Linked DNA regions of Homo sapiens: all the other regions are linked to region 5. Evidence: fine-mapped expression QTL. A gene starts in region 5. Each other region holds a variant in brackets. All regions are shown on one strand. Distances are from middle to middle.

The links.
Region 1: its variant is fine-mapped to the expression of SVIL in whole blood (TOPMed, PIP above 0.99).
Region 2: its variant is fine-mapped to the expression of SVIL in fibroblasts (GTEx, PIP above 0.99).
Region 3: its variant is fine-mapped to the expression of SVIL in fibroblasts (GTEx, PIP above 0.99).
Region 4: its variant is fine-mapped to the expression of SVIL in whole blood (INTERVAL, PIP 0.98).

The regions. Positions count from the first base shown.
Region 1 is chr10:29,673,746-29,680,290 of GRCh38, reverse strand. It overlaps a transcript of SVIL not described here. Among named protein-coding and RNA genes, the nearest start is that of SVIL, 42 kb to the right of the region's middle. The variant G/A (reference allele first, on the strand shown) is at 3,787.
Region 2 is chr10:29,579,610-29,586,154 of GRCh38, reverse strand. All of the region lies in intron 1 of SVIL (supervillin), which reads left to right. Among named protein-coding and RNA genes, the nearest start is that of MIR938, 19 kb to the left of the region's middle. RefSeq lists enhancers at 1-345, 346-846, 1,124-1,623, 1,624-2,125. The variant C/T (reference allele first, on the strand shown) is at 3,135.
Region 3 is chr10:29,711,830-29,718,374 of GRCh38, reverse strand. It overlaps a transcript of SVIL not described here and the pseudogene RNU6-908P. Among named protein-coding and RNA genes, the nearest start is that of SVIL, 80 kb to the right of the region's middle. The variant A/C (reference allele first, on the strand shown) is at 4,081.
Region 4 is chr10:29,759,914-29,766,458 of GRCh38, reverse strand. No RefSeq gene overlaps it. Among named protein-coding and RNA genes, the nearest start is that of SVIL, 130 kb to the right of the region's middle. The variant A/G (reference allele first, on the strand shown) is at 2,836.
Region 5 is chr10:29,631,941-29,638,485 of GRCh38, reverse strand. SVIL (supervillin) reads left to right here and starts at 3,515. Exons shown (of 38, transcript NM_021738.3): 1 at 3,515-4,066. RefSeq lists a silencer at 3,412-3,706.

The DNA of each region.
Region 1 (6,545 bases), 42 kb before region 5:
TCCACTGGTGGGACGGGGAGAGTGGACAGAACGCCTATGAGAACATGTGCCAGTCTGTATGTTTCTGGTGCTGATCTCCTTGACTAAACAGACTTTTATTATTACTGAGATAGGATCTTATTCTGTCACCCAGGCTGGAATGCAGTAGCACAGTCACGGCTCACTGCAGCCTCAACCCCTTGGACTTAAGAGATCCTCCCACCTAAGCCCCCCAAGTGGCTGGGATGACAGGCACATGCAACTATGCCGGGTAATTTTTAATTTTTTATTTTTAGGAGAGATAGGATCTCGCTATATTGCCGAGGGTCTCGAACTCCTGGGCTCAAGCAATCCTCCTGCCTCAGCCTCCCAAAGTGCTGGGATTACAGGTGTGAGCCACTGAGCCTGACCTGGACTTTTTTTTTTTTCTAATTTTAGATTCAGGGGGTACATGTACAGGTTTGTGACATGGATATTCTGTGCAATGGTGTAGCTCGGGCTTCTGTAAACGAACTTCTGTAAAGGTGGAACTGGATCCCTGACCTCTAGCAGTGCCACCCAACAGAAAGGTATTTAGAAAGTGGCTGGCTTGGCGGGGCATGGTGGTGTGTGCCTGCGGTCCCAGCTGCTCAGGAGGCTGAGGTAGGAGAATCTCTAGAGCTTGGGCAGACGAGGCTGCAGTGAGCCGTGATCAGCGCCACTGCACTCCAGCCAGGGCAACAGAGTGGGACCCCCATCTCAAAAAAAAAAAAGGAAAAGAAAAAAGAAAAAAAAGTGGCTGGCTTTCTAATCATTCATCTTCAGACTTTCCAATCTGTACTCAATGCTTTTGGTTTTAGGTTTTTGTTTTTCTAATAACATATTTGATGAAGAAGTCCCATCTGATGCAGAGGAGACTTGCATGTGGAAAGGAGTTGTCACTATTTCTTAAATTGTGGCTTCACTGGCTTCATTACCTGCACCTTCTCTTCTCACAAATATATGTCATTTTTATTTACCATGACATTTGAGAATTTAGTAAAAGTTAGTGGAGCAAGTTAGTCCCCTTAGTTGCCTACAAGCAGCTCTAAACCCAGGTGTTTTTTTGTTTTGTTTGTTTGTTTGTTTGTGACGGAGTCTCTCTCTGTTGCCCAGGCTGGATTGCAGTGGCACAATCTCTGCTCACTGCAGCCTCTGCCTTTCAGGTTCAAGTGATTCTCCTGCCTCAGCCACCCAAGTAGCTGGGATTACAGGCGTGCGCCACCATGCCAGGCTAATTTTGCATTTTTAGTAGAGATGGGGTTTCACCATATTGGCCAGGCTGGTCTCGAACTCCTGACCTCTGTTGATCCACCTACCTCAGCTTCCCAAAGTACTGGGATTACAGGCATGAGCCACTGTGCCTGGCCACCCAGGTGTTTTTAATTTTATACACAGGCTGCTACAAGCAAACCAATGCTGGGAGATGGTCATGCAGCTCAGGTCAACTCAGGGTACCCTCAACCTAAAATGTGAGAGGAGAGCTGCAGAAGCAATGGACGAGAAGGGAGCAGGGGTTTTAATATCCCCCACACATCTTCCAGCTTCTACTCTGCTCACTAATTTCATTTTGGACAAAAGCTTGTTGATTCTTCTTACTCAGGCTAGTTACCTGCATTATACTGAACAGAATTCCTCCAGGGAACAGCCTCTTGGCTAAATCAACATACACCTGCCATTCACAGATGCAGGGTTTCTAGCAAGATTCTAGAGCAGGGTCCCCAACCCCTGGGCCATGGATCAGTACTGGTTTGTGGCCTGTTTGGAACCTGCACAGCAGGAGGTGAGCGGCAGGTGAACGAGTGAAACTTCATCTGTATTTGCAGTTGCTCCCCATTGCTTGCATTTCCCCCTGAGTTCCGCCTCCTGTCGGATCAGCAGTAGCATTAGATTCCATAGGAGCATGAACCCTATTGTGAACTGCGCATTTGAGGGAGCTAGGTTGCATGCTCCTTATGAGAATCTAATGCCTGATGATCTGTCACTATCTCTCATCACCCTTAGATGGGACTATCTAGTTGCAGGAAAACAAGCTCAGGGCTTCCACTGATTCTACATTATGGTGAGTTGTATAATTATTTCTTATATATTACAATGTAATAATAATAAATTGCACAATAAATGTAATGCACTTGAATCATCCTGAAACCATCCCCCTCAACCCCTGGTTCATGGAAAAATTGTCTTCCACAAAACTGGTCCCCAGTGCCAAAAAGGCTGGGGATTGCTGTTCTAGAGCCTTTGTCTTTCAGATAAGGTAGACCCTGGCTTCACTTCTAAAAGGAAGATAAATGACTTTCTAGTGATATTTGCCCATTTTAGACAAATGTTTCTGCACCTTAGACTGAGGGCAGGTAGGCAGGATCATTGCTGGGGTGGCTTCCTGCTTGAACATTGTAGTTTCTTTGAGTTGAAGGTAGAACATTAAGATGTGATCACTGAAGGAGGAGCATCAAGCACAAATGAGCTCCTGATGTAGTTTACACAGCACTTGGGTGGAAAGGGCCATCCCTTTCCCTCTTTCCTTATGGAATTGGGAATCCGACAGTAAGTGGCCAATGAAAATGTATCCTCGCTGGTCACAGTGGCTCGTGCCTGTAATCCTAGCACTTTGGGAGGCTGAGGATGGAGGATCGCTTGAACCCAGGGGTTGAGAGAAGCCTAGGCAATATAGTGAGACCTGTTTCTATAAAAAAATAAAAATTAGCTGAGCATAGTGCTGCACAGCTATAGTCCCAGCTACTTAGGAGGCTGAGGCAGGAGGATTACGTGGGCTCCATTGCATGGAGTCCAGGAGTTTGAAGCTGCAGAGAGCTATGATTGTGCCACTGCACTCCAGCCTGGGCAAGAGTGAGACCCTGTCATTCTGACCCAGGTGTTATTCCGAGCAGCACTGACAGCATTCAGGGCTAGGTCATGCTTGGTTCTCTTGGCAGAATTTTTTCTTTGGTTTGGGGATATCGCCTGTACATGACAAGACAAAGGGGCAGGAGGAATGGAAGCCTTCCAGCATCGTTCACATTGCATGCTTGGAAACACTACTTGGGGGTGGAAAGTGAATGCATCTTTGTGGCATCTGAGTTCCCAGCAAAGGGTGTCTGCTGAGCTGAAGGCAAAAAGGGAAGGGGGAGAATTTTATAGAATAGGACATCTGGGGCACTCACATGGAGGGAGATTTAATACTATTTAGTCCCTGGCATTATTTCTCTTTCCTTAAGTTTACACTTTTTAAATTTGAAATTGAGAAATGATCACATTTAAATAGCAATGATTAAACATGTAGTTGATCCAGTTACTTTGTCATCCTTTATTTAGAAATGTCCGTAAGTAAGTGATCTCTAGTCTAGGAGGCAGATGGGTTCTGATGACCTGGGAAGAACTCTGTTGTTACCAAGGCTAAATCTCCACAGGTGTTTCCAAGACCCAAGGGTCACAGCTGTGTGCCAGTAGGAAAAGAGGGGTGGAAAATCGACTCCAAACGGCCAAATGGGCGTTACATCCTAGGCAAATGCCAACCTAAATGTAGCCCTTTGTGTGGTCAAGGCTGTTGTCAAAAGCAGAAAAAGCTAGCTCTAATTTCTCCAAACCAATGTCCAGCTCAGTGTTCCAACTGCCAGCTGCTCCGGCCCCTTAAGGTGATAACTCAGGGCCCAGAGTGACCTCTCTTGCTCCATTGGAGCCAGCCAAACCCTTGTGGATTTTTTTGTACTTACCTTTGACAAGAGGAAATCTCTGCAAACCTCTGTGTGCAGTTCCAGAAACATGTTTTACTTTATCATCATGCTCAAA[G/A]ACTGCTTTGTAAGCTCTCTGCATTGGGGGTAAGCTGGTTAGCATTTACCTAGTATTTGTGTTTATTAAGTTAGTCTTTGCTCTCAAAGAGTTTATATTGTGCGTGTGCGCACACACACACACACACTCTTTTTTTTCCACTTAAAAACAGAAGAATGAATGAGTGTGTATGTGTTTAGGTGACACTGAGAGGTAATGTTACCAAAACACCAGTGGTTCGGTCTTGATCCTGCTGCTGTTCACCACACAGAAAGCCAATCACTGAGATAATCAGTACTGCCAGGGAAGAAGGCTTTATTCAGGTGCTGCAGGTGAGGAGATGGGAGATCAGTCTCAAATCCATCTCTCTGACTGACTAAAATTAGGGGTTTATATAGCAGGGAAGAAATGTAACCATGCATGGGAAACAGGAATTAGAGAGAGGTAAGGATGAGGAATTGGTCAACAGGAAGCAGGGGGTCAGTAGTTATCATGATGGGTGAGGGGTCTGGTGTTTTATTGCCCAGATGCAGTAATCTGGTAAGTTTCAGCTCTGTGATACTATCTCAGAGGACTGATGGTTGGTTTCCTGAGAAAGGAGCTCAGATAAGACAAATGTAACTTTCTTATGTTTCAAGACTGGGAAGGGTCAATTTCTATGTTTATTCAAAAGAAACCATAAACATCAGTTCTATGGGCAATTGGACTGATCAGTCATGTAGCAATAAGATACCCATGAATACATCTTTACTATCATGAACAAGTCTTTGTGTAACACTTGGGCGAAGACTGGAGGAAACGGTATGGTTTTTCTATTGGGAGGGTGGATAAGGGGGAAAAAATCATTAGTTTTATTCTTAGAACAGATGAGGGTGAAGATGTAACACGGTTTGATGGACAGGAAATGGAAACTTGCTACAGTGGGACTGGTGGAAGAGCAGAGGTGTGCTTTGTGAGGTTCTGGGGGTCTGTGTGGGTGGGAGTAACATCCTAGCCTGGAGAGGGCTGGTTTCTTCTTGTTCTTTTTGTTTTGTTTTGTTTTAGAGACAATTGCAGTGCAGTGGCACAATTGTAGCTCACTGTAACCTTTAATTCCTGGGCTCAAATGATCCTCCAGCCTCAGTCTCCTGAGAAGCTAGGACCACAGGCATGCACCACCATGTCCAGCTAATTGGTTAACTTTTTCTTTGCAGAAATGGGGTCTTACTGTGTTGCCTAAGCTGATCTCAAACTCCTAACCTCAAGTGATCCTCCCACCTTGGCCCTGCAAAATTCTGGGATTACAAACATGAGCCATTGTGCCCAGCTGAGGGCTGGTTTCTAGAAATGGTGGTATGCCAGGCTTCATACTGGGGTCATGCATGTGGACTGGGCTCATTGGCCTGATTGCTCTAGCAATATGTGGGGTAGGAAGAATCATGCCCCCTCTCTCCTCCTCTTCGAAAAATGTCCACATCCCAATCCCTGGAAGCTGTGAATATGTTCAGTTATATGGCAGTTGGGAATTAAGGTTGCGAGTCAGCTGTCCTTGAGATGGGGAGATTATCCTGGACTATCCAGGTGGGACTTTTGTAATCGCAAAGGTCCTCGGAAGTGAAGAAGGAAGTCAGGAGAGTCAGTGTCAGAGTGATGCCGTGGGACACAGTCTTCAGGGCTGTTGCTGCCTTGAAGATGCAGGAAGGGGCCGTGAGCCAAGGAATGCAGGTGGCCTCTAGAAGCTGGAAAAGGCAAGAAAATGGATTCTCCTTGAGAGCCTCCAGCAGAAATGAGGCCCTGCCAACACCTTGACTTGTAGCCCAGTGAGACCCAAACATCTAACATCTAAAACTATAAATAAGAATTTGTGTTGTTTTAAGTCACCACGTACATAGTCATTTGTTACAGCAAGCTATAGCAAACAATCCAAATGGAGACCTGTCTCTGGTTTGGAAATGCGAGACATTCTTATTTATTTGTGGAATATAATATAATGGAAAATTTATGGAATATAAGTAACTCCAAGAAGATTCTTGTCAACATTAATTCTGAGATTTTTCTAAGCTAATTTATTTTACTACAGTAAGGCCAGGAACTTTATTGCTTTGCTGTTGTCTCCTCACTGCCTCGATCAGTGCCTAATTCATTCCTTTTTGAATGAATGAATCTTTTCTAACCAAACTCATGAAAAACCCTAAGAAACACCCCCCACTTTTTTTGAGACAGAATCTCATTTTGTCACCCAGGCTGGAGTGCAGTGGATCACAGCTCACTGCAGCCTCAACCTCCCAAGTTCAAGTGATCCTCCCCACTTGGCTTCCCAAGTAGCTGGGACCACAGGTGCACACCACCACGTCTGGCTAATTTTTTAATTTTTTTTTTGTAGAAATCAGGTCTTGCTATGTTGCCTAGACTGGTCTCAAACTCCTGGGCTCAAGTGAACCTCCCGCCTTGGCCTTCCAAAATGCTCTCATTACAGGTGTGATCCACTGTGCTTGGCCCCACCTTTTCAAAAAAAAATTTATGCTAAATTGTAAATGTTAAATTGAGGCTCTTGTTATAGACAAGGCATATCATACTTCGCATTATCATTCAAAGATGAGAGGCTTAATTAGAGAATTTTCTACAGTTGGGTTTTAACAAGAGCCATTCTTAACTTCCTTGGGGTCTAAGAACTTCTTGGTACCTACACATGGTTGAAATGTTAACCCTGTACTTTGCTGCTTAGCAAGACTGCTGTAATGCTGATATGGTTTGGCTCTGTGCCCCCACCCAAATCTCATCTCGAAATTGTAATCCCCACA
Region 2 (6,545 bases), 52 kb after region 5:
TAGCCACAGCCGAGCATCCACGGGGACCGTTTTCCCAACGGAACCTGTAAGGCTGAATCCATCTTTTCTCGTTTGAGTTTCTTCCAAACTTGCTGCAGTAGCTGAAAGTTAGTGAAGACGGCACTTTCCTGCACTGAAATGCTCGTTCAGATGCCTCAGGTTCTATGGGTTATGGCTCATGGACCAAAGCTGCACATGAGGCAAACGAACACCTGGAGGAGCCTGCGTTCAGGATGGGGCAGTGACCGCGCTCAGAGCGCTCTGGCTCACATCCCTTGTCTAAGCGGCTTCTCATTCATTGAGCTGAGGCGTCGGACACCTGCCGGGAAGACAGACGCGAACCGCGGCTCACTCTGACTCCTGACTGCTCCGGACCCCGGCTTCAGTTCTCCCCTCCCTCCAGAGATCTTGGGGCACCAGGGCTCATAAGCTGCTGCATGAGAACAGGGACGCTCTTACTGCTGGAGTCAGATTCAGAGTGTGTGTGTGTGTGTATTTTTAGCACAGTTGGGAGATGACATCTGAGATGCTGCTGGCTCAGCTCTGCTGGTGTCTCTTTTGAGCATGGAGCGGTGTCCTCGTTGTCTTCTTTTCATTGCTTATATCTGCTGCTTGCTGTTCAGGGAAAGCACAAATTCACTTTCTCCTCTTGTTAAAAAAATAGTTTGGCGGGCGTGGTGGCTCATGCCTATAATCCCAGCATGTTAGGAGAATGAGGTGGAAGGATTCTTGAGGCCAGGAATTCAAGGCCAGCCTGGGCAACATAGTGAGGCCACTGTCTCTATAAGGAATAGGCTGGGCATGGTGACACACTCCTGTAATATCTGCACTTTGTGGGGCCAAGGCAGGTAGATCACTTGAGCCCAGGAATTCAAGACCAACCTGGGCAACATGGCAAAACTCTGTCTCTACAAAAATTAGCCAGGTGTGGTGGCACACACCTGTGGTCCCAGCTGAGGTGGGAGGGTCACTGGAGCTCAGGAGATCAAAGTTGCAATGTGCCATGATCATGCCATTGCACTCCAGCCTGGCCAACAGAGGGAGAACCTGTCTCAAAAAAAAAAAAAAGGAAGAAGAATAAAAATATTAGCTGAGCATGGTGATGTGCACCTATAGTCCCAGCTACTTGGGAGGCTGAGGTGGGAGAGGACTGCTCAAACCCGAAGTCGAGGCTTCAGTGAGCTGTGATTGCAGCACTGCACTCTCTAGCCTGGGTGATGGAGCAAGACCCTGTCTATTTCTTTAATGTATTTTCTCACCACCTGAAGACCAAGCAGCATGATGTATCCCAGCTTGATGTCTGGGTGTGACAAGTATCTGAATTTTCTTTTTCCACTTGGGCTACAGGGATGGCTCTGATGCTTCTTCACGGGCTGTCCACGGCCTCCCTTCCCACCTCAGAATGCCCTGGCTGGGCCCACAGCACGTTCCGTCTGAATGTGGGTGGCTGTCTTGCCGAACCCGTGTCGACTCCATGGGAAGGCCGCAGGTTAAAGAGGCCGAAGAGGAGACCCAGAGCCAGTGAACGAGGCACGGGGTTCTGTTGTGGGCTTGCATACAGGGGAGAGAGTCCAGTGGCAGCGGGCTGAGTGGGAGAACCACAACCGCTTTCAAAAGGCATGCAGTTTATATAGCAATAGCATGTCCACTTGGCACCTCCCCGACAATCTCCACCTGGCAGCCTTCACATACCCCAAAACAAACAGTCCAGACCCCCTGTGCATGCAGTGGTGGCAGCAGGGCAGGGAAGCTGCTCAGATGTTCCTCATAGATAAGGAACGAATCTCCAGTTGGCCTCTCCTGGATTCCTTAGCTTGGAACCCTGAACCCCATGCAGGTGCCGCTGCCATACAGGGCCATTCTCAGGGTGTGCCTAAGTGATTGCTGTCAGGCGCATTTACCATGCAGAGGGATGGGACCATTTAAGCCCACGCCCCGGTTAGGCCTCTTCCCAGTTCCAGCTCCCACACTGTCCGCTCTTCTTCCTGGCACGGAGGTGAGGGCCCATGGCCTCCCTGTTCACCTATTGCCATCATCTCCTCCACAAGTAAGCTCTCCAGTCTCGTCCTCCAGGAAGCCTTCCTTCGTCACACTCACCCCATCTGATTATGCTGTTTCCCTGTTTCTTCCCAGGCTTTATATCATCGGTGGCTTGTATTCATGGTTTTCTAATTCTGTGGGCGTATCCTAATCACCTGTGGTGGGAGGACTTTCATTTTAAACAAATACCGCAAGTGGTCTGAGGGCCACCCAAGTTTGATATCCTTTGCTTAATCAGATGTTACACCCACGCATAAACGTGTCTTGAGTCATTTCAACAGACAGTGTGGAATGTGCCTTTGATTTATTTTGTGTCATGACCTCCCCAAGGCACCTGCACTGTGAGCACGGGATCTGCTTTCCTGGTGCAATAATATGACCATGAAGAAAGCCAATCATGAAAGTGTGAAATATCACAAACACGCCCTCCCCTACCCCGCATCAATCAGCAAGGGGCTGGGGACCTGTTCTGAAAGACTGGTAGGTCTTGGGTACCAGTTAATACAACCCATGGAGGCCGGGTGCAGTGGTTCACACCTGTAATTCCAGCACTCTAGGAGGCCGAGGTGGGAGGATTGCTTGAGCCCAGGAGTTTGAGACCTGCCTGGGCAACATGTTGAGATCCCATCTCTACAACAAATACAAAAGTTAGCTAGGCGTGGTGGTGGGCCCCTGTAGTCCCAGCTACTCAGGAGGCAGAGGTGGGAGGAATTGGCTTGAGCTTAGGAGGTCGAGGCTGCAGTGAGCTGTGATTGTGCCACTGCACTGCAGCTTGGGCAACAGAGCCAGACCCTGTCTCAAAAAATAAAAAATAACCCATGGAAAACAAGGGTGACACTGGAGATCACAGGTTGATGAGCTTTTCTTGCATTTTCATACTGATTATTATTGCTGAGATTGTCATTGTTGTTACTTTATTAAGATGCCCTTCTGAGAACAAGGAGAGCCAGAAATTACTTTATTTGAAACTTTCCTTCAAATTATTGGAGTCTAGCTCTAGAACAGCTATGATCTATCTGGTACCAACAGACATTTTATATATGTGCTTGTCTGCTATCTGGACTTTTAGACTCACAGGAAATTCTCCTCTGTGA[C/T]GACTCAGTGTTTCCCTGCTTTCTGTTCATGTGAAAACCATCAAGTAGTGAGCACTGAATGACTGGATTTGGCAGAGCCTTCTCCGCTCTCCCTGGACGATTGTAATCAAGTCAGCCCCTTCCCCTCTGCATGAGGTCTTCTTCTCACGAGAGGAGAGGCATGGGCCCCCGCAGCTCTGAAGGTGTGGCATGCTGCACCTTATGTCCTGGGATGCAGCCACAGACCCCATACAGTGAACACCTAGGTTTACTATTATTATTATTATTATTATTATTATTATTATTATTAGAGACAGGGTCTCACTCTGTCACCCAGGCTGGAGTGTAGTAGCATGATCAAAGCTCACCACAGCCTCAAATTTCTGGGCTTAAGTAATCCTCACTTCTCAGCCTTCTGAGTGGCTGGAACTACACCATCATTCCTGGCTAATTTTAAAATGTTTTTGGTAAAGATGGGGGTCTCACTATGTTGCCCAGGCTGGTCTCTAACTCCTGGTCTCAAGCAGTCCTCCTGCCTCAGCCTCCCAAAGTGCTGGGATTACAGGTGTGAGCCACCGTTCCTGGGAACAGCTAGTTTTATGTTTATTCGTCACATCATTGTTTAAGAGCCCTTTGTGGGTTGGGGCTTTGAACAGGTCAGAATCGTCCTTGGCGTCTCCTGGCCTCTGGCAAGTGGTGGGCCGGCCATGTGCCCCTCACAAGAGCTGTTCTCCAGGTGCTCAGCATGTGCCTGCATTGTATGTCAGCTGTGATTTGCCCTCAGTGTACATTTTATTGTAGATTGCACTGAAATATACACACCATGACATTTACCATTTCAACCACGTTTAAGTGAACAGTTCGGTGGCATTTAGGTGCATTCGCTCACAGTGTGCAGCCATCACCACCATCCCTCTCCAGAACTTTTTCATCATTCCAAATGGAAACTCTACCTATTCAACAACTCCCCAATTTTCCCTCTGCCCAGCCCCTGATAAACTCCCTTCTACTATCTGTCTCTGAATGTGACTGTTCTAGAAACCTCATATAAGTGGGATTGTACAGTATTTGTCCTTTGGTGACTGGCTTATTTCACTTAGCATAATGTCTTCAAGGTTCCTCTACATTGTAGCAAGCATCAGAATTTCCTTCCTTTTTAAGGCCGAATAATATTCCATCATATGTATATTCAGTGTGTAATTTAAACACAGAACTGACCTATGTCTTTCTTTTCTGACAATCAGCTGACCATTCTCTCTTCCTCTGAGGTACCTGAATTTTTCTTTCCAAGAGTCATTAGCCATAGATTTGGAATGAACCAGAAACTAAAACGATTGGAGATAATTTCATTACAAATGTTAACATTACTCTTTTGAACATTAACTTTAAAGACACTAATAAGTCTTTTAGGTGATTGCAATAAGCCTTTTCTTTAAAAAAGAATTCTGAAGTTTAGAAAGGCTGGCATGGTTTTCTTTCAACACATCCGATAAAGAAAAAATAGCTGTGACTTGCAACATTTCTTATTGAACGTACTTTGCCTTTTCATCTCCACCTATGTGGTCTGTTTCAAATTACCTTATGCAGTGATGTAATGCAACATTTTATTTGCACGCTTGTCCAAAATATTACCACTAACCAAAATTCACAGAGCATCTCACAGTGCACGCAGGAGGAGAATTAGACTAAAATGAGGAATCTGGAAAGTCTGACTGACCAGTGAGATGTGATCAAGGGGAAATGAAAGGGCCTAAGTGGGCTTTCCCTAGGGGCAATTTTCTCAGGTCAGGCAGTTCTGCCTCAGATTAAGGATCTGCACACATAAAGAAAATCCACCAAAGAAAATGAGAATACCATTTATGGCTGTTGCTAGCATACAAAATGCTCCTTTACTGGGCTATGAAAATATGTTCTTCACTTTGGAATTTCACTCCAGCCATCATCATTAGTAGCTTATAGTAGATTTCATTAAAATCATTTCCATAGCACTTCTTGATTTTGGAAATGTATTGATAAGTCATGTCAGTATGTATTCAGACAACTGCTAGTCATAATATCACACTCCCCTATACTGTACATTTAAATTCCAGCTCATGGTTGGTTTGATGGCTCACGCCTGTAATCCCAGCACTTCGGGAGGCCAAGGTGGAAGAATCACTTCAGGCCAGGAGTTTGAGACCAGCCTGGGCACATGGCAAGATCCCATGTCTACAAATTTCAAAAAATAGCCAGGCGTGGTCCCAGCTACTCGTGAGGCTGAGGTAGAAGGATGGCTTAAGCCCAGGAGGTTGAGGCTGCAATGAGCCGTGTTTGTACCACTGCACTCCAGCCTGGGCAACAGAGCCAGACCCTGTCTCAAATAAATACATACATACATACATACATTAATTAGTTAATTCATTCATTCCAGCTCATTTTCCTGTAGACTGGGAGTGCTTTCATTGATGTTCACTGAGCACAACAAGGTGACATGAGGTGACATCGTACGGACCTCTGGAGGAGCATGTAGTGCACCTGAATCCCTTTTCAATACGGAGTTCCTTGTGTGGATTAAATAATGCAGTCCATTTTTGGAGTGCTTCTATACGTGTTCTCTCATTTTATCCTGACCTCACCATCCTATTTCCCTCTTTGATTTTGTTGTGGCTGGCCAGGGAATGGCTGTTTTGCCTTTATTAAAACAATTTTTTTAGAGACAGGGTTTAATCTGTTGCCCACACTGGATGAGTGCAGTGGCGTGATCATAGCTCACTGCAGCCTTGGCCTCCAGGGTTCAAACGCTCCTCCCACTTCAGCCTCACAAGCAGCTGATTACAAGTAGGGATTGCAGGCATGTGCCACCATGCCCAGCTAAATTTTTTTTTTTTAAATTTTTTGTAGAGACAGAGTCTAACTTTGTTGCCCAGGCTGCTCTCGAACTCCTGGCTTCAAGCAATCCTCCTGACTTGGCCTCTCAAAGTGCTGGGATTACAGGCATAAGCCACCACCAGGCCCTGTTTTGCCTTCAGAGATGTATTTTAAGTTGTTGGTCTACGCTTGATGTATCTATCCTAGGTCAGGCACTATCCTGGTTTTCTCATCTGCATATGAGGATAAGTCACCGAGAAGACTAAAGGAATTAAATACTCCAGGACCCTCAGCCTTGCATCCGCCCCCCAGTGATGAGCCAGGGGAGGTCACAGGCACCATCCTGTTCGGCCCTGGTGGGAAATGGCTGGCTGCAGTGGAAGTGCTGGCTACTTCCCTTTCCCTTGGCTTTGCCCTCGTTTTCTCCCCCAGGATGATGGCCCCCAAAGGAGAGTTGCCTCAAAGGACAGCGTTGCAGGGGTGCTTGTGTGTCATCAGCCAGAACAAGTGACAGCGTCTGACTCCCCAAATAGCCTCCCTGTAAGTCTGAGCTGCCGCTGTGACCTGCGCTACACAGTCCCTGAA
Region 3 (6,545 bases), 80 kb before region 5:
AATCGCATTAAGAAAATTAAAAAGAAACAGGCGAATTTTTTTTTTTTTTGAGACGGAGTCTTGCTCTGTTGCCCAGGCTGGAGTGCAGTGGCGCGATCTCGGCTCACTGCAACCTCCACCTCCTGGGTTCAAGCGATTCTCCTGCCTCAGCCTCCCGAGCAGCTGGATCTACAGCGATGTGCCACCACGCCTGGCTAATTTTTGTATTTTTAGTAGAAACGGGATTTCACCATGTTAGCCAGGATGGTCTCCATCTCCTGACCTCATGATCCACCCGCCTCGGCCTCCCAAAGTGCTGGGATTACAGGTGTGAGCCACTGCGCCTGGCCACGAAACAGGTGAAATTAATTTAATTATATATTTTCTTTAACTCAGTCTACCCAAAATGTTATTTCAACATGTAATCAATGTAAAAATATTAATGAGACATTTTTTCTTAAATTTTATAGTAAGTCTTAAAATTTGATATGTATGTTATAGCTATCAGATACTACATTTTTATCTGAAATACTTGGTCTATATTTAGCTTTTATAAAATTTATAGTTGAAAAAGTATATTTGTTAACCAAACCCCAAATATACAAGTTCTCCAGCAACTGAACTCAGCATCAAAAAATCATTCTCCACGATATTCGCATTCAACTTGACAAAACTGGTTCATCTTTTTTAGAATAATTAATTTGACTTTTTGAAACAAAAAATATCAGTTTCAAAGCTACATCTGTTCAACTTAGGCAAATTCACTAACTCTTATGCCAGCTCAGAATTGTTGACATTAAATTCAAAGGAATATTGCAAAAATGGAAAAACTAACTCTAAATTTATCAATATCAACAAAGTATTCCCCAACATTTTCTTATGGATTTTGAAGGCAATTTATATAATGCTTTTGATTTCAGTGAAGTCATCCACATATTGATTCAAGTTACAAAAATGTATGAAACCATTATTTTTTACTTCTCTTATGAAAAATGTCAATTTTGACATAAATTCTCCTGCCTCTCTAGCTAGGTCATAAGTAAGTTTTTCCTTTCCTTGAAACTTTAAATTTAGCTCTTTCATATATAGTGTGTGATATCTGTGAAAAAAAACATAAATCACACTGCCTATTTTTTTTTTTTTTTTTTTTTTTTTTTTTTTTTGAGAGAGAGTCTTGCTCTGTCGCCCAGGCTTGAGTGCAGTGGCGTGATCTCGGCTCACTGCAAGCTCCGCCTCCCGGGTTCACGCCATTCTCCTGCCTCAGCCTCCCGAGTAGCTGGGACCACAGGGGCCCCCCACCACGCCCGGCTAATTTTTGTTTTTTGCATTTTTAGTAGACAGAGTTTCACCATGTTAGCCAGGATGGTCTCGATCTCTGACCTTGTGATCCACCCGCCTTGGCCTCCCAAAGTGCTGGGATTACAGGCGTGAGCCACGGCTCCCAGCCCACAGTGCCTATTTTTGTCTTCATTTCTTGCTTCAGCAAGCATTCTTTTTTTGTAAAGAAAATCCTGCATTGTAGTTAACTGTACAGTGAATGTTTGTAAAAATTCTTCTATGATTCAACCAGAGATCATTGGCAAAGAACACATGATCAATCATTTCTGGTTTTCTATTTCTTTCAGCAGTTCCATAAACTGCTTCAAGAATCCAAGATGTTTTATAACTGGCCAGAGTTATGAGCTGAGATGTAAAAAATCATTAAAACAATTTTTTTGGCCATTCTTATTTTGAGTGACTAATTTCATTGATCTGTTTTTGACTGTCGAGGGGAGATGGCATCAAATTCATTATGTTTTTGCTGAAATTGTCTGTTAATATTTTCTGCTTTATTATCTTTGACTTTTTATGTAACACACAGCTTTCTCCTTTTGCTCTGCCACAGCAAGTTATAATTGCCATTGATTATGTTGCTTTTTGCTTACCTTCCTCTCCTGTCTCTTTTTTTCTTGACTGTTCTGATTGTATTATTAATTTCTGTGTCTCCACTGGATTTTGTATCAGTCCTAAGGCTTTGGAAAGTGTCTCTGTGTTAGGACTGCTACAAAATTTTCAAAGTGATAAATTAGAAAAATTGGCCATATTTATTTTATAAACTAGAGAAACAATGTAATTATATCTTAATTAAAACAAGTATTTTGATATAATTACCAATTATGATTTACATAGTTATCACCATAACTTGTGCTGTCTGTGTAAAATATTCATATGAACACATTACAGTGTTACATCAGTGTTTAGAAAAAAACATTTAAATGGAAACACTTTATTGACACCAAGTAGATCAGTGATGCTTTCCTTTGTAGACTCATCTGCTACAATGCACCAAATAATATTTTAAGCAATATAGTATTTAAAGTAAAATGTAGTTCTACCAAAGCAATGCATTAATGTTTAATGGAACATGTTTTACATTGCTTCAGTTTTTACATTTAAATAAAATCATGTGAAATTAATTAAAAGTTGACATTCAGTTCCTCAGTTGCACTCACCAACTTAAGTAGCCATGTGTGCCCATTGGTTCTTGTATTGGACAGCACAGGCCAGGGGCTACTTGCATTTGAACCTAGGAACCTTGTATCAATAACTAGATGGTTGCTCACTTTTCTTGCCCAGCAACTACATCTTCCTTGCCTTGTCCCATGGCACTCAGGAATTTTAGGAGTTTGGCAAATAAAGTCTTGTACAATTAAGTGGTCTCTGAAGGTCTCTTGATGACCATGACTCTTGGACAACTTCCCACTGTGCTAGGCCATTAGGACAAGTCTGGGGACAACTTCTGACTCCAGGGACAGTCTGTGGGATGTAATAGGGATTAGCTTGGGACAAGGCCAAGGCAGAGTTTATAGGTCAACTGCAGCTACTCTTCCTCTTCCCATGGGTTACTAACCAATGACTCAAGAGCAATCTGGCTTGATCTTAGTTGGATGGGAATGTTGTCGGCAGAGGTAGCATTCTCATTGTTCTGGAAGGAGCAGGTTTCATTTTCACACCAATCACGAGAGTGTTAGGGGAAAGCTGTCCCTTAGCTAAGTTGGCTAGGAAGGTTTTCAAAAATCCATCTCAATTAATCATCATAGGCTATGAAATGACACCTGAAAAATATGAAGAAAATGGAATGGGTGGTTTGTGTGTTGAATACAAAATAATGATATAAAGCATTCTAGAATTCAGAAACCAACTTATGAACCAAGATGTTATTTTCAGAGTGGATATACTCACCTTGCCTGGACCCTGATTAAACTCCTCCTCTTTTTTTGTTTAAAGTTCAATTTATATTCTGACCGTTTTCTTTGTTTAGAGTTATATTGCTTTGGTTCATATTTTTGTACTGCCTTCACAAAATATTAGGGGTGTTTACTTAGATCTTAGGTTTCTCAAGTCTTTTTCTTCCTTCCTTCCTTCTCTTTTTTCTTTTCTTTTTCTTCTTTTTTTTTTTTTTTTTTTAATTTCAGACAAGGTCTTTCTTTGTTACCCAGGCAGGAGTGCAGTGGTGCAGTCTCAACCTCCTAGGCTCAAGTGACCCTCCCACCTCAGCCTCCTGAGTAGCTGGGACCACAGCTGTGTGCCACCATGCCCAGCTAATTTTTAATTATTTTGTAGAGATGGGCTCTCACCATGTTCCCAAGGCTGGTCTTGAACTCCTGAGCTCAAGCGATCCTCCCACCTCAGCATCCCAAAGAGCTGGGATTACAGGCATGAGTCACCACGCCCGGCCAAGCCTTTTTCTTTTGTCTCTGATCCTCCTAAACTTTCTTTTATCTCCAAAACTCTTGCTCTGTGCTTTGTACACTGCTGCATGTTCAGATAGAGCTTAATCTGTACTTACTCATCACTGATGATTCATAAAATACAAAGTGTGCTTTAGTAACACTGAATAGTATAGTCTAGAATCCTAAAAAAGTTGAGAAAAAGACTTTGTTCTCCTTATTTTCTATTTTTTTCTATTGCTCCACCTTGTATTAGAAATTAGGAAAGACTCGTGGTGAATGTGTCCAATCAGTTCACCTCACCTCATGTTGTTTCTAAATAAAATAATAAAATCTGAACCCATAGTCTTCGCCTTTTTTGAGGTTTAAGTATTGGTTCATCTATGTCGTT[A/C]TGTAATTTCAAAGTGCCTTCCGGAAAATCCCTCGGGATGGAGATGACTCAGGATAGCTTTGCACTGGTTTGTTATGGGGCCATCTAAATGAAGGAATGGCCCTCTGAAATGGCAGCAACAACCCTAAGCTGCCTGGGTTCCAGTCCCAGTTCTGACACCGTCTAGGTGAGTAGCCTCAGCCAAGTAACTTCCCACTCTCTAAACCTCATTTTTCTGTCTATACAAGGTAGGAATTAGATGATGACATTGCTTCCCAAGCCTTCCCACCCAACACTAGTGGCCCTTGAGATATCATTGATTGGGTGCTTCTCCAGTATATCCATGGAAATTGGAGAAATGCTGTGTGCTGAATTCTATTCCATATTTGGCTTCCAAAAGCTCATAAGCACATTAGAGACTGCAAGAAGCCTTGAAGTAAAGAAATCTGCTTAACATTTTTAAACCTAGCATTTTCTAAACTCTTTGAACTGGAAACTCTCCCTCTTTTGGAGGAAAAGCTTCAAGTATATTGGAGTATCCTGTAGTACATAGTTTGGGAAATGCTGGAATAGATCAGTGGTCGGCAAATAGCAGCCTGCAGGCCAAATCCCTCTTGCCACCTGTTGTGTAAATAAAGTTTTATTGGAACACAGCTACACTCATTCATTTATGAATTGTCTATTTGCCCCAGAATAGCCAAGTTGCAGAGTTGTGACAGAGACCTGTATGGCCCATACTGCCAAAAATATATTTACCATCTGGTTATTTACAGAAAAAAAAAATTTGCTGACTCCTACACACAGGATTATTTTCAAAGTGATTCATGAACATGGCTGAAAAAATCAGATCGTGGAGGAATGCTGTAAATGAAAAGCAATAGCTTTGTTCCAGAAGCAACACATTTTTAATGGTTCCTGTTAAAATTATTTTAGTGGTTATTACTAATAGTTGTATAACTCCTCACTCAGCCGTTTCTGATGTATGTGCTTTGGGTTGCCTCTGTTTGATAGACCACGTTCACATGCACACACACACACACACACACACACACAGAGGCATGTACAACTTCTTAGTTTTATCAGTACATGAATTCCTCTCTTGATTACCACTGCAGTTTTTTTTTTTCTTTTTTCTTTTTTGAGATGGACTGTCACTCTGTCGCTTAGGCTGGAGTGCAGTGGTGCCACCTTGGCTCACTGCAACTGCCTCCCAGATTCAAGCAATTCTCCTACCTCAGCTTCCTGAGTAGCTGGGATTATAGGTGCCCGCCACCACACCCAGCTAATTCTTTTGTATTTTTAGTAGAGACGGGGTTTCACCATGTTGGCCAGGCTGGTCTCGAACTCCTGATCTCAAGTGATCCACCTGCCTCAGCCTCCCAAAGTGCTGGGATTACAGGCCTGAGCCACCGTGCCCAGCCCTACCATTGCAGTTTTAATGTTCATAAACCTCTATATCTTGTTGCATTTATTTCCTACCTATTAGGTGCCAAATTTTATAAGATGAGGGGACTAGTACCACTAACCTTCCGCATTCCTCTCTTTTCCTGTTGTCCATCTTTCAGCTTTTCTCAGCTATGTCTTTATTTTTACAGTGTTGAGTCTGATAACATTTGCCTTCTCTATCTGGAAATATTTTCCTTGCATTGCCCATTGATTGAGTCTAAAGGTTGCAAGCTGTCTTAGTCCCTTTAGTGTTGCTATAAAGGAATACCTGAGGTTGGGTAATTTATAAAGAAGAGTTTTATTTGGCTCACGATTCTGCTGCTGGAAGATTGGGCATCTGGGGAAAGCCTCAGGCTGCTTCCACATATACTGAAAGGCAGAGAGGAGCTGGCATGTGCAGAGATCAGATAGCGAGAGAGAAGGCAAGAGAGAGAGGAAGAAGGTCCCAGGCTCTTTCTAACAACCAGCTAAGGTCGCAGGCTCTTTCTAACAACCAGCTCTCCTGGGAACTAATAGAGCAAAAATTCACTCACTGCCTCCCCGCCCCCCAGAAAGAGCATTAATCTATTCATGAGGAATCCACGCCCATGACCTAAACACCTGCCATTAGGCACCGCCTCCAACATAGAGGATCAGATTTCAACAATGTTCCAAAGGGTCGAATATCCAAACCGCAGCACAAGCCAATGAGCAGTGTTAATGTAAATACTGTCTGTAGAAGAGCCAAGCAGTGCTTGCTGTGATTATACTTCCCTCTCTATAATTCTAATATCACAACTGCAGCATCACTCAAAATAGATAGTTCTTAATATCTTTTTCTTTAAAATTTTTTAAATTTTTATATTTTTATTAAAATATATAAAAAATATTGAACACGTCATGAATTTGCATGTCATCCTTGCGCAGGGGCCATGCTGATCTTCCAATTTTAGTATATCATTCCAATTTTAGTACATGTACTGTAATCCACCTGCCTTGACCTCCCAAAGTGCTGGAATTACAGGCATGTGCCACCGTGCCCAGCTGCTCTAATATCTTTT
Region 4 (6,545 bases), 130 kb before region 5:
TTAGTAATTCACTGTCACTCAGATGTGGAAGTGAAATATAGATTTTTCACACTAGTATAGCTGGTGTGTCACATGCCAGTTGCAATAACACCAGCCCAATATTGATTGAACACATGCTATAGGCCAAGCAGTGGTCTGGTACATTATGGTCCCACATGAACCCTCATAGCCTGTGAGTTAGGTATGATGATCATCCCTAAAACTGAGGAGCTGAGAGGTTATGTAGCTTTCTCTAGGCCACACAGCAATTAATGGGATCAGCTGAGATTTGAACCCCAGCATATCAGGTTATAAGCCTGAGGATTAACCAATATGTTACATGGTGCCTTTTCCGTGTGGCCCAAGGAAAAATATCTGGGAAGGAAGAGGCTGCCACTGAGCTGCTCTGGGCCCAGCCCCGTGCAGGTGCAAGACTCCCAACCTGCCTGTTTTCTAGTGGCCTTATCTGATGCTCTCTGGGATCCCTGATGGCCACCTTTAAACTCCAGGTAGAGCTGGAGGCATGGGGTTGAGAAGTCATTTGCCTGGGAATTTCCGCCATGTGAAAGGAAGCAAATGAGGCCTCTAAAGATGACTAAGGCATATGGTGAGCAGCTGGAAATCTGTGCACGGATTGACAGATCCACTGCTCTTCCCTCTTCGTCCCGTGCCCTAGATCTGCTGCTAAGTCTATACCTGCTGTGATACCCAATAGGATCATTTAAGGGGCAGATGAGCTGAGATAAAGAGAATGAGCTGACTCTTAATCCATGCCTTAACTATAAACCTCTAAACAGCTGTTAGCCCTGCCAACCCCAAAAAAGTAAAAACAAAAGATTGCTTTAGGAAGTTGCTCCTCACATGAGCCTGGCTTTGCTCAGGTTGCAATGCCAGGTTAGCATAGGGATGGCAGAGTGTCCCTGCTGTCACCACGTCTATGTAATCAGTGTCCTGTGGACAGAGCCAGCAAGAGCAGTGAGAGTCTGAGCTGTGTCTGGATGCCAACATCAATGCTTTTTCATCAGCACACTGGTTTATAAATAAGCCATCTTCTGGTCTACCCTGTTGGATTTTTTTCTCCAAAGCCACTTGGTTCGTGAAACTACCTGGATGGTGGAAATGGTGAGATTGAGGGACACTTCAATCCACAAAACGTTGCTGAATTCCAGTCCTCTTTTTGTAGTTGCAGGTATCTTTACACAATGTGATTTGCATTATTTTTGCAAAAAGACTGAGATGGGAACGCTTATGAAAGAAATGCATATTGAAACAAAAAAGGGCGGGGCGAGGTGGCTCATGTCTATAATCCCAGCACTTTGGGAAGCCAAGGGGAGCCGATCACTTGAGGTCAGGAGTTCGAGAGCATCCTGACCAACATGGTGAAACCTCGTCTCTACTAAAAATACAAAAATTAGCTGGGCATGGTGGCGCGTGCCTGTAATCCCAGCTACCTGGGAGGCTGAGGCATGACAGTTGCTTGAATCTGGGAGGCAGAGGTTGCAGTGAGCCAAGATTGTGTCACTACACTCCAGCCTGGGCAAAAAGAGCAAAATTCTGTCTCAAAAAAAAAAGAAAGAAAAGAAAAGAAACAAAAAAGACTTTTCTAAACACAACAATTGTCAAAGACTTAAAAATTTAATAAAACCTCGGGTACATGAGGATGTAGAGAAATAGTCCTTTTGCACAGATTGCTGATAAAATATAAACACCTCTGTGAGGCTGAGCCTGGTGACTGGCACCTGTAATCCCAGCTCTTTGGGAGGCAAAGGTGGGTGGATTGCTTGAATCCAGGAGTTCAAGATCAGCCTGGGCAACACGGTGAAACCCCACCTGTACAAACAATACAAAAATTAGCCAGGCGTGGTGGCATGTGCCTGTAGTCCCAACTACTTGGGAGGCTGACTTGAGAGGATCACTTGATCCTGGGGAGGTCAAGGCTGCAGTGAGCCATGATCATGCCACTGCACTCCAGTCTGGGGACAGAGTGAGACCCTGCCTCAGAAAACCTCTATGAAAAGCATTAGGAAATATCTATTATTTGCATAAGTGTGCAAAAATATATGCATCAAGAATTTTTACTGCAACACTGGCAATTTTTAAAAATCTGGATATAACTTAAATATCTATCAATAGAAACTTATATATAAAGTACATCTATAAAGACAATACTATGCAGCTATTAAAAAGAATCAAGCTGGCTGGGTGCCATGGCTCACGGCTGTAATCCCAGCACTTTGGGAGGCCTGGAGGAGGGTGGATCACTTAGGTCAGGAGTTTGAGATCAGCATGGCCAACATGGTGAAACCCCATCTCTACTAAAAATACAAAAATTAGAGGGGGGTGGTGGTGGGTGCCTGTATTCCAAGCTACTCGGGAGGCTAAGGCAGGAAATCACTTGAACTCAGGAAGGCAGAGGTTGCAGTGAGCCAAGATCATGCCACTGCACTACAGCCTGGATGACAGAGCGAGACTCCATCTCAAAAAATAATAATAAAAAAAAGAATAAAGCTAATCTATATGTGTTGAAATAAAATATGCCAAGATATGTTACTAAATACTAAATGATTATTTAAAGGAACATATAATAGTGAATACATATATAAGGCTATGTTGAAATATGTATTTTCAACATTTGTGTACGTGGAAAACTCTGGAAGGACATGCAAGAAACTATTAACAGTGGTTATTTAGGTCACGGGAGGTATAAGAGAAAAAACTTTTATTTTTTATCTTTTGCATCCTTCTATTTGAAGTGTTTACATGGGCATGTACTTCATTTATAATTTTTTAAAGCTGACTTCAATTTTTTAGAAAGAGGAACAGTGACAATTCCTGGGTCATACTCAGAATTTCCAC[A/G]CATCTCTTTTCTGGAGAACAAACCACAGATGGTTCCCAAGGCTGAAGACAAATAGTTGCACAGAAGAGGAAAGAACTTAAGTCATGTTATCCACTAGGGCTTGTTTTCCTACTGTCCTCAAAAGTCCTTCTAGTCTTTTTCATTTGTTGCAGAAAGTTTTATCATGCATTTATAATTGCCGGTTTCCACGGAATTTCTCACGTGTCAAGTGAATCTAATTGGGAGTTCCATTCCGCCATGGCCCTGGCTCAGCTCCAAGCACCATCAATAATGGGTAGTGGAGGTTGGGGCTGCTGGGCCTCCCTGGACCTCCCCTTTCGAAGGGTTGAAGAACTCTGACACTCAGAAAAGAAGCCCCACTAGTCCCCAAATTGTGCTTCCTGGAGGCCTGTTCATATTGGTTCAAAGGAAAAGCAAGTTTACAACTGAATGTGTCTGAGAGACAGCAGAGCGTGGTGCAGTGGCCCGAAACATCTCCTGGTTTCCTCTCTGTGAGCGGGTAATTGCCTGATTATGTAGCCTGGATGCGCACGGCTCAGTGCATGGCTCAGAGCAGAACGTATCATGGGGTGCGAGTGATGTGTTCTCAACCTCTCTTCAAAAAAACTCTAGGCCAGGCACAGTAGCTCACACCTGTAATCCCAGCACTTGGGGAGGTCGAGGCAGGAGGATCACCTGAGGTCAGGAGTTCAAGACCAGCCTGGCCAACGTGGGGAAACCCCATCTCTACTAAAAATACAAAAATTAGCTGGGCATGGTGGCGGGCGCCTGTAATCCCAGCTACTTGGGAGGCTTAGGCAAGAGAATCGCTTGAACCCAGAAGGCTGCAGTGACCCAAGATCACACCACTGCACTCCAGCCTGGGCAACAAGAGCGAAACTATGTCTTGAAAAAAAAAAAAAAACCTCTAGCAGGAGAAATCACTTTTGCATTAAATTTTGCATTTCAGATATATTCTCTAGTGACCACTGAAACAATTACATATCTTCTTCTTTTTTTTTTTTTTTTTTGAGACGGCATCTTGCTCTATTGCCCAGGCTGGGCACGATCTCGGCTTACTGTAACATCCACCTCTTGGGTTCAAGCAATTCTTCTGCCTGCTTCAGTTTCCCAAGTAGCTGAGACTACAGGTGCTTGCCACCATGCCCAGCTAATTTTTGTATTATTAGTAGAGACGGGGTTTCACCATATTGGCCAGGCTGGTCTCGAACGCCTGACCTCATGATCCACCTGCCTCAGCCTCCCAAAGTGCTGGGATTACAGGCATGAGCCACCGCACCAGGCCTGAAACTATTACATTTCTAAGAGAGGGTTTAATGTTTGCCTTTTCATAGGATTTAACATAATAGTTATAAGTACTAGACAGTGTAATCACATCAGACCAATCTGGTTCAATTTTTATGTAACAAAGTTGTTTTTCAGTTGTCATGGCCCCCAGGTCGAAGGTCACATAACCTGAGCATGCCCAGATGAACCGACTGTGCAACCACAGGAGGAACCTAAGTGCTCAGAGGAGCGGAGACTGAATTAAGAAGCGCACACCACATGGCAGGATCCACAGTCCAATCAGATAGAGCTCTAGTGTCACCGCCTGCCAGATCCAGTCAGATTGTGCCTCCTGGCATCAACACATTGCAAGATCCAATCAGATTGCACCTCCCCACCCTATGTTTATAAAACCTGACCCAGCCACCAGCTGGAGAGACAGATTTGGGAGTTTCCTCCTGTCTCCTTGCCAGTCAACTTTCTTTTCTCAAAAGCCAGTGCCCTGGTATTGGTCTCTATGCACATTGGGCAGAGAACCTATTGATTGCCCAGCAATAATAGCATTTATGTATGTATGTATATATATATGTATTTATTGTTTTTGAGACAGAGTCTTGCCCTGTAACCCAGGCAAGAGTGCAGTGTCAGGATCTTGGTTCACTGCGACCTCTGCCTCCCAGGTTCAAGTGATTCTCATGCCTCAGCCTCCCGAGTAACGGGGATTACAGGTGCACGCCACCATGCACTGCTGATTTTTTGTATTTTTATTTGAGATGGGGTTTCACCATGTTGTCCCGGCTGGTCTCGAACTCATGAATTCAAATGATCCACCCACCTCGGCCTCTCAAAGTGCTGCGATTACAGGTATGAGGCACTATGCCTGGCCAATAATAGTATTTATATAAGTGATAAGTCACCTAGGTGACTTTCCAACTCAGGAAAAGGACCAGTTGGAGAAAACAAGGTAATGAGACCAGAGATCTTCGGACAGGGAAGGGGGACCCTCTGTCACTGGGAAAAGCTCCTTAACCAGGTCCAACACCCTTCCTGCCTACTTCCTCCTGTCCAGCCCTCACCCATCCACCCATGGTCGGTAGATGTGGGAGAATCAGAATTGAGGTGAGGTTGGGGAGGTGAGTTTTAAAAGCTCTAGGCCAGGTGTGGCAGCTCAGGCCTATAATCCCAGCAATTTGGGAGGCCGAGGAAGGTGGATCACTTGAGGTCAGGAGTTCGAGACCAGCCTGGCCAACATGGTGAAACCCTATCTCTACCAAAAATACAAAAATTAGCCTGGCATTGTGGCAGGCACCTGTGATCCCAGCTATTCAGGAGGCTGAGGCAGGAGAATCGCTGAACCCGGGAGGCAGAGGTTGCAGTGAGCTGAGATCGTGCCACTGTACTCCAGCCTGGGTGACAGAGCAAGACTAGGTCTCAAAAAATATTAGCCCGGCGTGGTGGTGGGCACCTGTAATCCTGGCCACTTGAGAGGCTGAGGCAGAAGAATCACTTGAACCTGGGAGGTGGAGGCTGCAGTGAGCTGAGATCCCACCACTGCATTCCAGCCTGGGCCACAAGAGGGAAACTCCATCTCAATAAATAAATAAATAAATAAAAGCTCCTGAGGGCCTCATCCTGGGATTCCTTCCCCTCCTCAGAGCCTGCGGTGAAAGCAACTGACAAAACCACTCCCTGTGGGGCTTGGCACTCTGCTTCCTTTTCTTCCTCATAAATATCTCAAAGACTATTCCTTTCCCCGGACACAGACAGACCAGACGATGTCTCTAAATTCATAGAGCTGGAAGAGAAACCAGGTGACCCTTTCCCCTTCCATTTGCAAAGCTGTATATGCACTTATGATATTCCAATTTTACTTTGCATGAAACCCCCCAGGTATTACTATGAAAAATGTAAATCCCTGAGCATTTTTCTCAGAGATGCTGACTCCATTGACATTGTGAAGGGTTCAGAAGTCCACATTTAAAATAAGCAGGTCAGGGTATTCAGCAGCACACTCAGGAAAATGCTGACCTCAGCACAAAGGAGTTGCTTAAACGACAACAAATTCATGAATGAACTGATAAACTAACATGGATGCTTATGTTGTTAATATTCTTTAATTTGTACACTTATTTTACACATACTATTTTAAATAAATGATATAGTTCACAATTTGTAAAAGCTTTGTAAAAGTTTTTTTTTTTTTTTTTGACTCAAAGTTATGCTCTGTCACCAGTCTGGAGTGCAGTGGCCTGATCTCAGCTCACGGCAACCTCTGCCTCCAGGTTTAAGCAATTCTTGTGCCTCAGCTCCCCAATAGCTGGGACTACAGGCACCTACCACCACACCTGGCTAATTTTTTTTTTTTTTTTTTTTTTTTTTGTATTTTAGTAGAGACAGGGTTTCACCATGTTGCCCAGGGTGGTCTCAAACTCCTGAGCTCAGG
Region 5 (6,545 bases):
TTAAACTTTTTTTTTTTTTGAGACAGAGTTTCACCCTTGTCACCCAGGCTGGAGTGCAATGGCATGATCTCAGCTCACTGCAACCTCCGCCTCCCGGGTTCAAGCAATTCTCCTGCCTCAGCCTCCCGAGAAGCTGGGATTACAGGCACATGCCAGCCACCATGCCTGGCTAATTTTTGTATTTTTAGTAGAGACAGGGTTTCACCACGTTGGCTAGGATGTTCTCAATCTCCTGACCTCAGGTAATCCATCCGCCACAGCCTCCCAAAGTTCTGGGATTACAGGTGTGAGCCACCCCGCCCTGCTTAAACTTTTAATTTTGAGATAATTATAGATTCAGATGTAGTTGTAAGAAATAGTACAAAGTGATCATGAGGGCTTTTTACCCAGTTTCTCCAGTGATAACATCTTGCAAAGCTATACAATAGTATCACAACCAGGATATTGACACTGATGTGGTCAATCCAATAGAAGAGTTCCAGAACAGGGGTCTCTCATGTGGCCCTGTTAAACCACCTCATCCCCATCCCTAACCTCTAACAACTCCCATCTCTTCTCCATTTCTATAATGTTGTCATCTGGGAAATGCTATGTAAGTGTACTCGTATAGTATCTAACATTTTGGGATTGGCTTTCTGTCACTCAGCATAATTTAATTCCCTGGATTCTTATCCAGGTCGTGGAACGTACTAATAATTTGTTCCTTTTTATTGTTGAGTAGTATTCCATGGTATGGATGTACCACAATGAGGATTGGGTAGAAGCTCATTGCTTTTGCCTAGGGGTGTCTAATTGCTCTAGCACTGTTTGTTGAATGGCACAGAAATCAGTTTGGCATATTCATGTGGGCCTGTCTCTGGGTTCTCCAGTCTGTTCCACTGATCTATGTTATGTGTCTCTCTTTTTGCCAATGCTGTGTTGTCTTGATTACTGTAGTTATCCAGTAGGCCTTAATATGGGATAGATTCATTGCTCTAACTTTTTTCTTCTTTTGAGACGGAGTCTCACTCTGTGGCCCAGGCTGGAGTGCAGTGGCATGATCTTGGCTCACTGCAACCTCTGCCTCCCAGGATTGGGTTCAAGCGATGCTCCTGCCTTAGCCTCCCTAGTAACTGGGATTACAGGTGTGCACCACCACGCCTGGCTAATTTTTCTGTATTTTTGATAGAGACAGTGTTTCACCATGTTCATTAGGCTGGTCTCGAACTCCTGACCTCAGGTGATCCACCCGCCTCGGCCTACCAAAGTGCTGGGATTACAGGCATGAGCCACCACGCCCAGACTAACTTTTTTCTTCTTTTTCAAGATGGTTTTTAGCTATTCTAGGGCCTGTACCTTTACTATAAATTTTAGAATATCTGCCAAAAATCACTGTGAGGCCAGGCAGGGTGGCTCACACCTGTAATCCTAGCACTTAAGAAGGCCGAAGTGGGAGGACAGCTGGAGCCCAGGAGTTCAAGACAAGCCTGGCCAACCTAATGAGACTCCATCTCTACAAAAACTAAGAAATTAAAAAATTAGCCCAGTGTGGTGGTGCACATCTGTAGCCCCAGATATTCAGGAGGCTGAGGCAGGAGGACTGCCTCCTGGGGAGGTTGAGGCTGCAGTGAGCCATGATTGCACACCTCTACTCCAGCCTGGACAACAGAGCAAGACCATGTCTCAAAAAAACAAAACAAAACAAAACAAAACAAAAAAACCTTGCAAGATTTTGATAGGAATTTTGTTAATCTGTAGATCAGTTTGGGGACAATTGACATCTTTTGTGTGTTGATTTTTCTTCCAATTCATGATTATCATCATTGGAAAGAAGTGAGTATGATGAGTCTTCTAAGCCAGGCAGATAGCAAAAAAATTAGGAAAGTAAATGGATTGCACAGGAAGAATTAACTGGGATTTAAATAATCAAAGACAGAAAGGATATATAAAAGAAGTGACGAAGGAGATTTACCCTATTAGACTCCAGTGTATTAATCTAGGACAGTTTGGTTGCTATGGGGAAGCAGTGTGCAAAAACTTAAGAGGCACACAAAAGACTGATGTTTATTTTGTGGGAGTGAATCTTTTTTTAGGAAGGAAATAGCACTATTGTGGTAACAGTGATTCATTTTCTCCTCCTATCTTCTCTTTACAGAGAAGACCCAAATAGTGAACTGTTTCATGTAAGTTTTTATTTATTTTTGCCCTACTTTTCTCTAGGGAGGGGCTTACCACAGCTTATAAAAATACGTAAAACAAGATCAAATAAACTTTAAAATGAGGAAAAAGCCAATATGGTCCAAGGGAAAAGAAGATCAGGGTCAGGACTGAGATTAGGATGCAAAAGCCATGCTATGAAATTTTGTTTGTTTGTTATCTTGAGATGGGTAAAAAAAAAAAAAAACAGTTGACTGGGACAAATACCCCTAGCACAAAACAGTCATGAAGCCAATGTTTAATTATTATACCTGTCATCTTTTCACCTGGCCTCAGGACTGTCCTCTTAGGGAGAGGCATTGTTCTGTAGGGTTAATTAGTAACAGGAATTTAGATCCTGCTTTGAGAGGCCTCCTGTGCTGGCCGAAGCAGCTGGTGGTCTGAGAACCCTGACACCCAGAGGCATACCACTGGGAGGCCCCGCGCAGCACACAGCTTTTGCTGTACTCCAGCCCAAGTCTTATGGGGTTTGTGGTTTATACTGAAGTTGGTGCAGACAATTAAGACTCTCTGTTCTTGGTACCGACAGGGACAGAGACCTACAATTGTAAGTATTTTGTAAACAGGGTTGTGATATTTGTTTGAGTGTATTCAACATGTCAGTGGCCTTTTAATGTTTAAAAAAATGCATATGGCCATTTAAGAAGTGGTTGTGCTTCATAGTTAATATTTTTTTCATTAGGTTAGGTTCATCTGGTTTTTCAGTGAGGTGAGCTACCTGAGAGCCATAGGAAGATAGATCTTGCCAGTTCAGAGGACTGACTTTGGCTTTAAGAGAAAATATTTGTGTCATTTTCGAGAAAGTACTTCCAGCACAATGCTTTCTTCTGATGATTCATTTTCTACAGTTATTGGAAGTGGGAAGAAATCCACAGAGGTTACAGAATTTGTAAACTTGTAGAGACATGTGCCATTATATCATGCTGTTTCATAGATGTGTATGTCTGTTAGTTACTTTTCGGGCATTCATTGTATATATGTCTGTTACTTACTTTTGGGGTGTTCAGTGTCTGAGCTTTGTCAACGATTGTGTGCTCTTTTTTTAGCCTAAAAAAACTAAGTTAGAGAAATGTTTGCTCATCCAAATCTGTATTGTTGTAGCTTATTCAGTAGACTGCTGTTGTATTTTTAATTTCTCTATACAACAAGCTGAAAGACAGTGTGGACAACCTAATTGCATTTGAAGTAGCTGCTGGCCAGGCCTGCTGCAACAGCTGATGGGCTCCTCTGAATTTCCAGGGCTATTTCTGGTAGATGAGCTGGTATCAAGGCTCTCGAGTTCAGGCCATAAAAGGCCCGTCCCATGTGAAGTTGCTTCACTGCTCTGACTGCGTCCTCCCCAGGCTGAAGTGTCCTCAGGTTTCATGTGGATTTGCCCAGTAATGGATGGCTCCACCGAGGCCAGGTTGGGGAAGTTCAGCCTCGAGGACACTAGGGGACGAAAAACTTCAAAAAGAAGACTCTTTTTATTAATATTTTGGCGTTCTTTTTGGAGAGGAACTTTTGGGATGTAGCCTTTACCTGTTTCCTGAATTTGACATCCAAAAAGCCTTTTGGAAAACACCATTCTAAATTTATCCTGTTCTGAATCATCATCGCTTCTGATAGATGCAGTTGCTTGCTGACATCGTGATCTTTGATTTTGTACAACGCTATTTGGGCTAACTTTTGGGATTTTACTTTGTGCTTAGAATTTGAAAGTAGTATTCATTGGAAAGAGACTCCAAGAAAATACTCGAAGACATCAAAAGCTGGATTCGAGGGTATAACGTGTTTTGTTTTGTTTTTTAAATTAGAAAAATAAGGAATTGCAGTGTGATTTTCTTTCCCCCTTTAACTTAGAGGAACGAGGATTATACAGAAATTTGAAGTAAGTGAAAAATCTTCCTATAAATCTAAATGCAGTAGGTTTTTTTTTGTTGTTTTTGTTTTTGCTTTTTTTTAAGTGCCATCTGTCTGAGCATGTTTCCTGAGGATTTGTTGACTTCAGTCATTGGAAAATTCCTGCCAGCGTTTGCCAGTTACTGCAGCCATTCCTGTAGATACCCTTGGGCATATTTCTTGGGTTGAGAAGGATTGGACTTTTTTTTTTTTTTAAAGGATTTACTTTATGGTAGAGAAAGGTTTAATACTAAAAATTTGATTAATATAACTTAGTACATTCTGTCTAAATGTTAGCACTTAAAGTCTTGGAATTAAAGTATATTCACAATGCAACGTACTTTAATAATCGTAGCACAAGTATGGGGGTGGAGTTCAGAAGGGCAAGTTTTATTTCACTGCCATTATAATTCATGTAAAAATAGAAAATCACCAGTGATCCTTTTGCATAATCTTTGTTCTGAGGGTTCTTTGCCTTGGTACTCTCATTCTTCAGGGCTTGATTTCTAGAACTTGCGATGTTCCAGAATTTATGAGAAAAACCTCACTGTAGGTTCTAGAGTTTGAACTGCATTTTATTTTTAAATTCTCCAAGAAAAAATACTGCATCAGCCTTTTAAAGCCCTGGAGATTGCTATGGTCTCTTTGTAATTTAGCTCAGTGATTTGTTTCTGCTGAAAAACAGCAGTGAACTCTAGAACATAGAAGGCTTATTTGACGTGTTGCTTCTTTGAAAAAAAAAAAAGATTATTTCTTTATACCACATCAGATGGACAAGTACGGGCAGTCATTATTTTTACCAGGTAGGAAAACAGAGTATTTATAGAGAAGAACTTCATCGGTGAATACTGCGAGGGTTCTTCACCGGAGATAGTGTGGCAACCCTAGGGGGCGTTTGAAAATGCATGGGGGTGTTTCAGGTTTTCTCAATGACTCACTGGCATTTGGGAGGATGTGGTTAAGAATTGTAAATGCCCAATTTACATGGTGTAGGGGACAGTCCCATACAGCATTACCCTGGCCAAACTGCTGGTGGTATCCCCTGTTGAGTAAAACTGCAGGATATAAATTGTACCCTCTGTCTCCAAAGAAGAGCAGCCCAGTGCCAGGCAGATGTGTGCTGTCTCTTCTCACCAAAACCAGTGATGTCTTTTTTTTTTTTTTTTTTTTTTGAGATGGAGTCTCGTGCTGTCACCCAGGCTGGAGTGCAGTGGCACGATCTCGGCTCACTGCAACCTCCACCTCCCAGGTTCAAGTGACTCTCCTTGCCTCAACCTCCCAAGTAACTGGGATTACAGGCACCTGGCACCATATCCAGCTAATTTTTTTTTGTATTTTTAGTAGAGACGGGGTTTCACTATGTTGGCCAGGCTGATCTTGAACTCCTGACCTCGTGATCCGCCCACCTTGGGCTCCCAAAGTGCTGGGATTATAGGCGTGAGCCCCTGCACCCGGCACCCGGTGATGTCTTGAGGATCCAGGGCATCAAGTGTGCACTAGTGTCAGAGAATTTGTCTTACAATGGAAACTTTGGAGTCTATACTCTGTGTGTGTGTGTGTGTGTGTGTTAAAGATAATTTATTTGGTCACCTTGATCACTGGATGAGGCTGATGTTATACAAGCTATTGTAGTACATTAGGTGCCTTCCTGCCTACCTTTATTTAGTACTATTGGTGCATTTAATTTTGCCACATGCATAGTCTTCCAAGTGAAATTTGGTTAATGCGCTCAGCTTGCAGTGGACATCAGTCAGCCATTCAACAAACAGTTCTTTATCTTTGCTTCTACTTTGGAGACAGACTGTTTTGTGATAAACAGACTTCTGGAAGACTTTGGAGTTCAATTCAGAGTGAACATCTTTGGCAACACCTGGGGTTATATAGTATTCTTTTTTTCTTTTTTCTTTTTTTTTTTTTTGAGATGGAGTCTTGCTCTGTTGCCCAGGCTGGAGTGCAATGACACAATCTCAGCTCACTGCAACCTCCACCTCTTGGGCTGAAGTGATTCTCCTGCCTCAGCCTCCCTACTAGCTGGGATTACAGGCATATGCCACTGCGCCCAGCTAATTTTTGTATTTTTAGTAGAGACAGGGTTTCATCATGTTGCCCAGGTTGGTCTTGAACTCCTGACCTCAGGTGATCTACCAGCGCTCGGCCTCCCAAAGTTCTGGGATTACAGGCATGAGCCACCACACCCGGCGAGTTATTTAATATTCTACAGTTGAGGAATTGCATCCAAAGGAAAGGGCCCTTGGGATTTTTATAAGGATGTCTGGTGAGCTCCAGCATGCAGGGCTCTCGGGCTACATGGAGCGTTATGGAGAGTAAGCTGCTAGGAGCCTTGTGATTGTTAGGGTACAAAGGCAGCCTTGGAATCATCTCCTGAATCTGCAGCTGCCTGGGATTTTAGGACACTCATTGCAATTTTATGTTAAAGCGCTGATCTCAGGGTGCCTTGCTGTGACTGG